Regions from separate parts of the Homo sapiens genome. Here region 2 is reported to be linked to region 1. Evidence: microRNA targets listed by miRTarBase, many of them from high-throughput screens and not tested one by one. Region 1 holds a microRNA gene; the other region holds the end of a gene's coding sequence.
Evidence for each region. The annotated mature microRNA hsa-miR-4756-5p reads CAGGGAGGCGCUCACUCUCUGCU and lies in region 1 at 2,311-2,333, opposite strand. An mRNA with a match to its seed (bases 2 to 7 or 8) in the 3' UTR can be bound and repressed. Matches are read on the target gene's strand: a 7mer-m8 pairs with bases 2 to 8, a 7mer-A1 pairs with bases 2 to 7 and ends in A, and an 8mer does both.

Region 1 (3,152 bases):
GGCTCACTGCAAGCTCCGTCTCCCGGGTTCACACCATTCTCCTGCCTCAGTCTCCCGAGTAGCTGGGACTACAGGCGCCTGCCACCACGCCCGGCTAATTTTTTGTATTTTTGGTAGAGACGGGGTTTCCCCGTGTTAGCCAGGATGGTCTCGATCTCCTGACCTCGTGATCCGCCCGCCTTGGCCTCCCAAAGTGCTGGGATTACAGGCGTGAGCCACCGGGCCCGGCCGAGGCAGGTATTTTTATTGTCCCCATTTTACAGATGCAGAACCTGAGCCCAGGGAACTTAAACTCCTCACTTAAGATCATGCTATGGATTGAAATGTGTCCTTCCAAAATTCGTGTTGGATTCGTGTTGAAGCCCTAACGTGCAATATGACTGCATTTGGAAATGTGGCCTCTAAGGAATCAAGGCTAAATGAAATCAGAAGGGTGGACCTTGATCTGATAGAATTAGTGTCATTATAAAAAGAGACACCAAAGAGCTCTCTCTGTCTCTCTCTCAACCGTGTGAGGACACAGCAAGAAGGCAGCTGTTGGCTAGCCAGAAAGAGTGGTCTCACCAGAAATGCATCGGCCAGAACCTTGATCTTGGACTTCCAGCCTCCAGAACTATGAGAAAACAAAAATGACTGTTGTTTAAGCCACCTAGTCTGTGGTGTTTTGGTTACCACAGCCCAAGCTGACTAATACAGATCATCTTCTAGTAAGTGGGAGAATGAGGACTTAACCCTCGCAAACTCAAGTCCAGAGTTTAGACTTTTAACTTTTCTATTTTCATACTTTCTACTGTCTCTTCTGCTGTATAAGTGATGTTATAGTTTTATGAAATATTTATATGTAATATAATAGAACATGGAATAGAAAATATTTCCTGCATATTCATTCTTGCAATGAGAAAATTATAACTAGGCAAGGAATATATATGGTACAATCTAAAGTGAGGATTAGGCCGGGCGCTGTGGCTCATGCCTGTAATCCCAGCAGTTTGGGAGGCTGAGGTGGGTGGATCACTTGAGGTCAGGTGTTTGAGACCATCCTGGCCAACATGGCGCAACCCTGTCTCTACTAAAAATACAAAAATTAGCCAGATGTGGAGGCACAATGCCTGTAATCCCAGCTACTTGGGAGGCTGAGGCAGGAGAATCGCTTGAACCCAGGAAGCGGAGGTTGCAGTGAGCCGAGATCACACCGCTGCACTCCAGCCTGAGCGACAGAATGAAACTCTCTCAATAAGTAAATAAATAAATCAAATAAAGTGAGGATTGAACAATTGAAGGGTCACTGATAATCACTGTAAGGATTTAGCGCCAGGGCTTGGCAGTACTCAGGTGAGTAAACGTTAGTTATTGCTAATATTATTCATTTATCTTATTATTGTTATAATTGAGTTAGTTCTGTGTTCTGATCCATGAGTGAATTGGCCTCCTGGAAGCTGCCCTCAAATCCCTCCTCTTTTACACAGTGATTGATGGTCCATGTCGCCTCCTTGTAGTTACAGATTAATAATAGGCCCTCCTCCTGGAAACAGGCCAAACGCCAAACCCCATGCAAGCTGGCCTGGAGAAAGCACTTCTGAAACTTCATCACCAGCAGGCAGCTAGACGACTGTTGAATGGGAGGGGGGGTGGTTTTGAAGGGTGGAATGGTGACAGAATTAGTCACCAAGTAAACAAGCAACACCTTCGATCAATGCAATGGAATGTAGGTAACCCAGGGGCCCTCCTCACTGCTCAGCTGAGGGTGACGCCAACATGGCCAGGCTGGCACACCCAGCAGAACCAGCCCTCTGCCCCCAACATCAGTAAAGACCTTGCAGGAGGAAAGAACAACCCCGCTTTGCCTGCCCCACAGTCCTGCAGCTCCATGTGTGTGCCCGCACAGTGCTAGGAACACGGCAGCTATTATCAGGAGTGCCAGGTACAGTGCTACAGGTTGCCTCCTGTACAAGGGGACACAGGGAACTGAAATCCAGTCCTCACTGAACTGCCCAAGCCCTGATTCCTGGTATGGGACTTTGTGGGTCCAGGGGCAGGGGTGCCTTGATCAAAATCACCTTGGATGTTTTAGGGCTGCTTGGTGATTGATGTTTTGCTTTCGGAGTACTTAATTATGTTTGCACAAACGGATGGTAATCCTAAAAATCTTAGAGCTCGCTCTCATAGTCTTATTATTGCACCAAACATTGTTAAGTGCATGATAATCGCAGGTAATTTTAATTGGAGGCTTACTATGTGCCAGGCAGCACCAGGGTGAGCATAGCAGGACACAAAATATAGGAAGGCAACCATCTCTGGTGCAGAATCGGCAGCAGAGAGTGAGCGCCTCCCTGCATTTTATCCCCCAGGTGCTCACTGGCTTCACCCTTGCCCTGACCCTGGTGCCAGGCACTTCACACACATTGTCTCCTTTTCCCTTGCAGAGTCCCATTATTCCCTGATTGCACAGATAAAGAAACCAAGGCTGAGCAATGCCATCCCCTCATCTCACGAACGTCACCTCCATGAGGGTAGGCACCTTACTAGTCCTACTTGCCCAAGAGTAGCAGTCAGAAAGCTACGGGGAGGCACACCTGGGGTTTGAACCTGGGTCCACGTGACTCAGGCACTCAAATCCTGAACTGCTTCAGGGCAGGGCACTTGGCTTGAAGAGAAGCTGCAGACACAGAGACAATCAAGTCACATCTAATACTCCAGCAGGACAGATGAGCCTGCAAGGTGCAAAGGTACCCCCGCCCCCAACCCAAAGCCTTTTTCAATTCCTCTCCCTCCACATCTCTTGTCATGGTAAAGCAGGCAGAATCCATGGGCTTTAACGGGCCCATTGCTTTTCCCAAAGCTCATGCCTTTTTCCTAAAAACAAAACCCTTCTGGGTTCCAGAACTCTTTGGAAAAAAAGAATCTTCTGTGATTTGGGACATTGGTTTGTTCCCCCACCCTCACTTAAATGAGAAACTACTTTAGCATGCCCCGCCCCGTCTGTTGTCTTTATTTAGGAGGAAGCACCCTCTACATACCCTGAGTATATACACCCAGGGCCTGAAGCTGCTGTGATCAGCTCAGGATCCCCAGGAGGCTGAGGCGGATCAGGCCCTGGACTCCGGGGGAACAATGTAAGGGACACCAAAAAGCTCAGCCATGGAGATGAATAG
Region 2 (3,000 bases), not on the chromosome of region 1:
TGGGTGTGTTTAATTGGTTCCCTGATATTAAAGTTCAGGGAACTACCCAAGATGGGAAATACCAAATTCACCTAAGAATTGAGCTGAGTCCCAGAAGCAAGCCAAGTGATAAACAGCACCAAAAAGAGTTGTTGGGGCTTCATCTGTTTGCTGTGGATCCCTGATCCTTGATGCTAATCTGCCTCTTTGTATCTTTCCCACTAACCCTGAAAAGAAGCCACATTTCTCAGGCTGAAGTGTCTGGCTCTCTTTTATTATTCCTGCTGCCACCTCTTCCTTTTTTTCCTCTTCCTTTTTCCCAGTTTGCTATCTAGATTGATGCTAGTCCTTCTCACCTAGAGTATCCTTACTTTTTCATACAGATAATTATCACCGTTTCTGCTCTGTTCTGGATCTGCCCCCTTTACTCCTCGGGGAACCCAAGGCCCCACTCTCGCTCTGGATTCCATTTGGGTCAGCCTGGCTGGTCCCCAAGGCATTAGGATGGGGGAGCAAAAAGCAACTTATGTATTTTCTTCCACCCCCACCCCAAATTAAAATGTTAAGCTGCTGGAAACCTCATGCCACCCTGCATTTGTGTCATTGACAAAGCTGTTGCTGTCCCTAAGAAGGAGCCTTGGGGGTGTGATGTGGGGAAGAGCTATTGTAGGCTCCCCCTCCTCTGACTTATGTAATCAAAGCCACTTTTGTGTGTGTCTATTTTTTCTTGACATTTAAACTCAGCTGATCTGATTCTACCAGAGTGATGGATTTAGTACAGGTTACTCAGGATAGTAATTTTAGTTATACTCCTCAAGCTGAACAAGATTAAATTCCTTATTTCCAGGTTCTTAAATCATCCTGCCTGCAGTGTTTCCATTCTCTCTTCAGGTATTCCTCCTTTGGTGTGGTGTCATTGAGAAGCCATTGAAGTGACTCTCAATACACATTCTGTACCCTTTTACCGGTGGTTCAAATGGTGCATCCTCAGAACACCCAGTGAACCCAATACATTATTGCTAAGATTGACTAATTATGTCAACTCCAGTCACAGAAAAATACACAATGGATAGAATTCTGGACGGTTTTTTTACTTTTTCTTCTTTAAACCTTTCTTACATATTTGAGACTTGCTACCATTTGCCTGCTAGTGTGTGACTAGTGGGATATAAGATAAGTGATAAATTATTATTGGGAAAACTAAAATGACCAATCATGCATATTTCAAATAATGTGCATATGAGGCTAATGATTTATTACATACATAAATTTCTGCTAGTAAAATTTTCCTTGGTTCATATTGTGGAATTAAATATCAACATTTTAGAAATTCCCATTATAGGCCGGGCGTGGTAGCTCACGCCTATAATCCCAGCACTTTGGGAGGCTGGGGCAGGTGGATCACCTGAGGTCATGAGTTCGAGACCAGCTCGGCCAACATGGTGAAACCCCGTCTCTACTAAAAATACAAAAATTAGCTGGGCATGGTGGGTGGGTGCCTGTAATCCCAGCTACTCGGGAGGCTGAGGCAGGAGAATCGCTTGCACCTGGGAGGCGGAGGTTGCAGTGAGCGGAGATCGCGCCACTGCATTCCAGCCTGGGCAACAGAGAGACTCCATCTCAAAAAAAAAAAAGGAATTCGCATTCCAATTTACACAGCAGAGATTTCTTAATAGTATAGCTGTGAATTATACTAATCCAAGCACGTAAGTGTTGTTCACTTAGTACTTTAGTTTCCCAGCAGGGTATGTATTTAAAATTTGCTTTTCTTTTAGCTGGGTGCAATGGCACTTGCCTGTACTGCCTGTAGCTTCTTGGGAGGCTGAGGCAGGAGGATTGCTTGAGCCCAGGAGTTCTGCACTGTAGTGTGCTATGCAGGTCAGATGTCCTCACTAAATTTGGCATCAGTATGGTGACCTCCTGGGAGTGGAGAACAACAAGGTTGCCTAAGAAGGGGTGAACTGGCCCAGGTCGGAAATGGAGCAGGTCAAAATTCCTGTGCTGATCAGTAGTGGGATTGCACCTATAAATAGCCACTGTAGTACTCCAGCCTGGGCAACACAGCAAGATTCCATCTGTTAAAAACACTTTTGCTCTTCTTTTAAACAGATATAATCAGGTAGGGAAGTTTTCCTTAATCTAAAACTTTAAGTCATATCAAATTCACGTTTCCTTTTGTCCATTCCATTTCTTACTGCCGCATAGCCTTTGAGATTAAGGTTCAGATTCATTTATTCAGCTGACACTTCCTGGTATCTTCTAGGTATAGGATATTAAGATGGAGACAGAAATAAAGATGGAGGCACCATTCCTACTCTCAAGTTGCTTAGAATCTACTAGGAGAGAAAACATACATAAAGCTACAGATACTGTGTGATGAATGCCACAAATAATAGTGTTATGGGAATTGAGTAGAGGGGACGAGATTGATCCTAGTGGGAATGAATTGGAAAAACTCATGGAAGAAGGCATGTAATGGGTACTTCATAAACATGTTAAAACTTTTTTCTTTTTTTCTTTTTTTTTTTTTTTTTGAGACGGAGTTTGACTCTTGTCACCTAGGCTGGAGTTCAGTGGCCTGATCTCAGCTCACTGCAACCTCTGCCTCCTGGGTTCAAGCAGTTCTCCCACCTCAGCCTCCCGAGTAGCTGAGATCACAGGCGCCTGCCACCACACCCAGCTAATTTTTGTATTATTAGTAGAGGTGAGGTTTCACCATGTTGGCCAGGCTGGTCTGGAACTCCTGACCTCAAGTGATCCACCCACCTCAGCCTCCCAAAGTGATGGGATTACAGGCTTGAGCCACTGCGCCCAGCCAACATGTTAAACTTGCATATTCATTTTTATTGGGTTCCAAAAGTGGATTTTTGACAAGCAGAGTTGGGTTGTGGGATAGTGAATATTGAGCATTCCATTATTTATTTATTTTTCTCTTTTTGAGATGGAGTCTCGCTCTGTCACCCAGGCTGGATGGAGTGCAGTGGTGAGATCATGGCTCACTGCAACCTCTGCTTCTTGAGT

Region 2: the mRNA of TPM3 is a reported target of hsa-miR-4756-5p. The part of its 3' UTR that is shown has no 7-base or 8-base seed match.

The regions. Positions count from the first base shown.
Region 1 is chr20:54,066,142-54,069,293 of GRCh38, forward strand. It overlaps MIR4756 (microRNA 4756), which reads right to left and starts at 2,344; the gene lies at 2,267-2,344. The region is part of intron 1 of BCAS1 (brain enriched myelin associated protein 1); the gene reads right to left.
Region 2 is chr1:154,165,303-154,168,302 of GRCh38, reverse strand. TPM3 (tropomyosin 3) reads left to right here. Exons shown (of 10, transcript NM_152263.4): 10 at 363-3,000. The coding sequence ends at 366. It also overlaps the pseudogene RN7SL431P. Among named protein-coding and RNA genes, the nearest start is that of NUP210L, 12 kb to the right of the region's middle.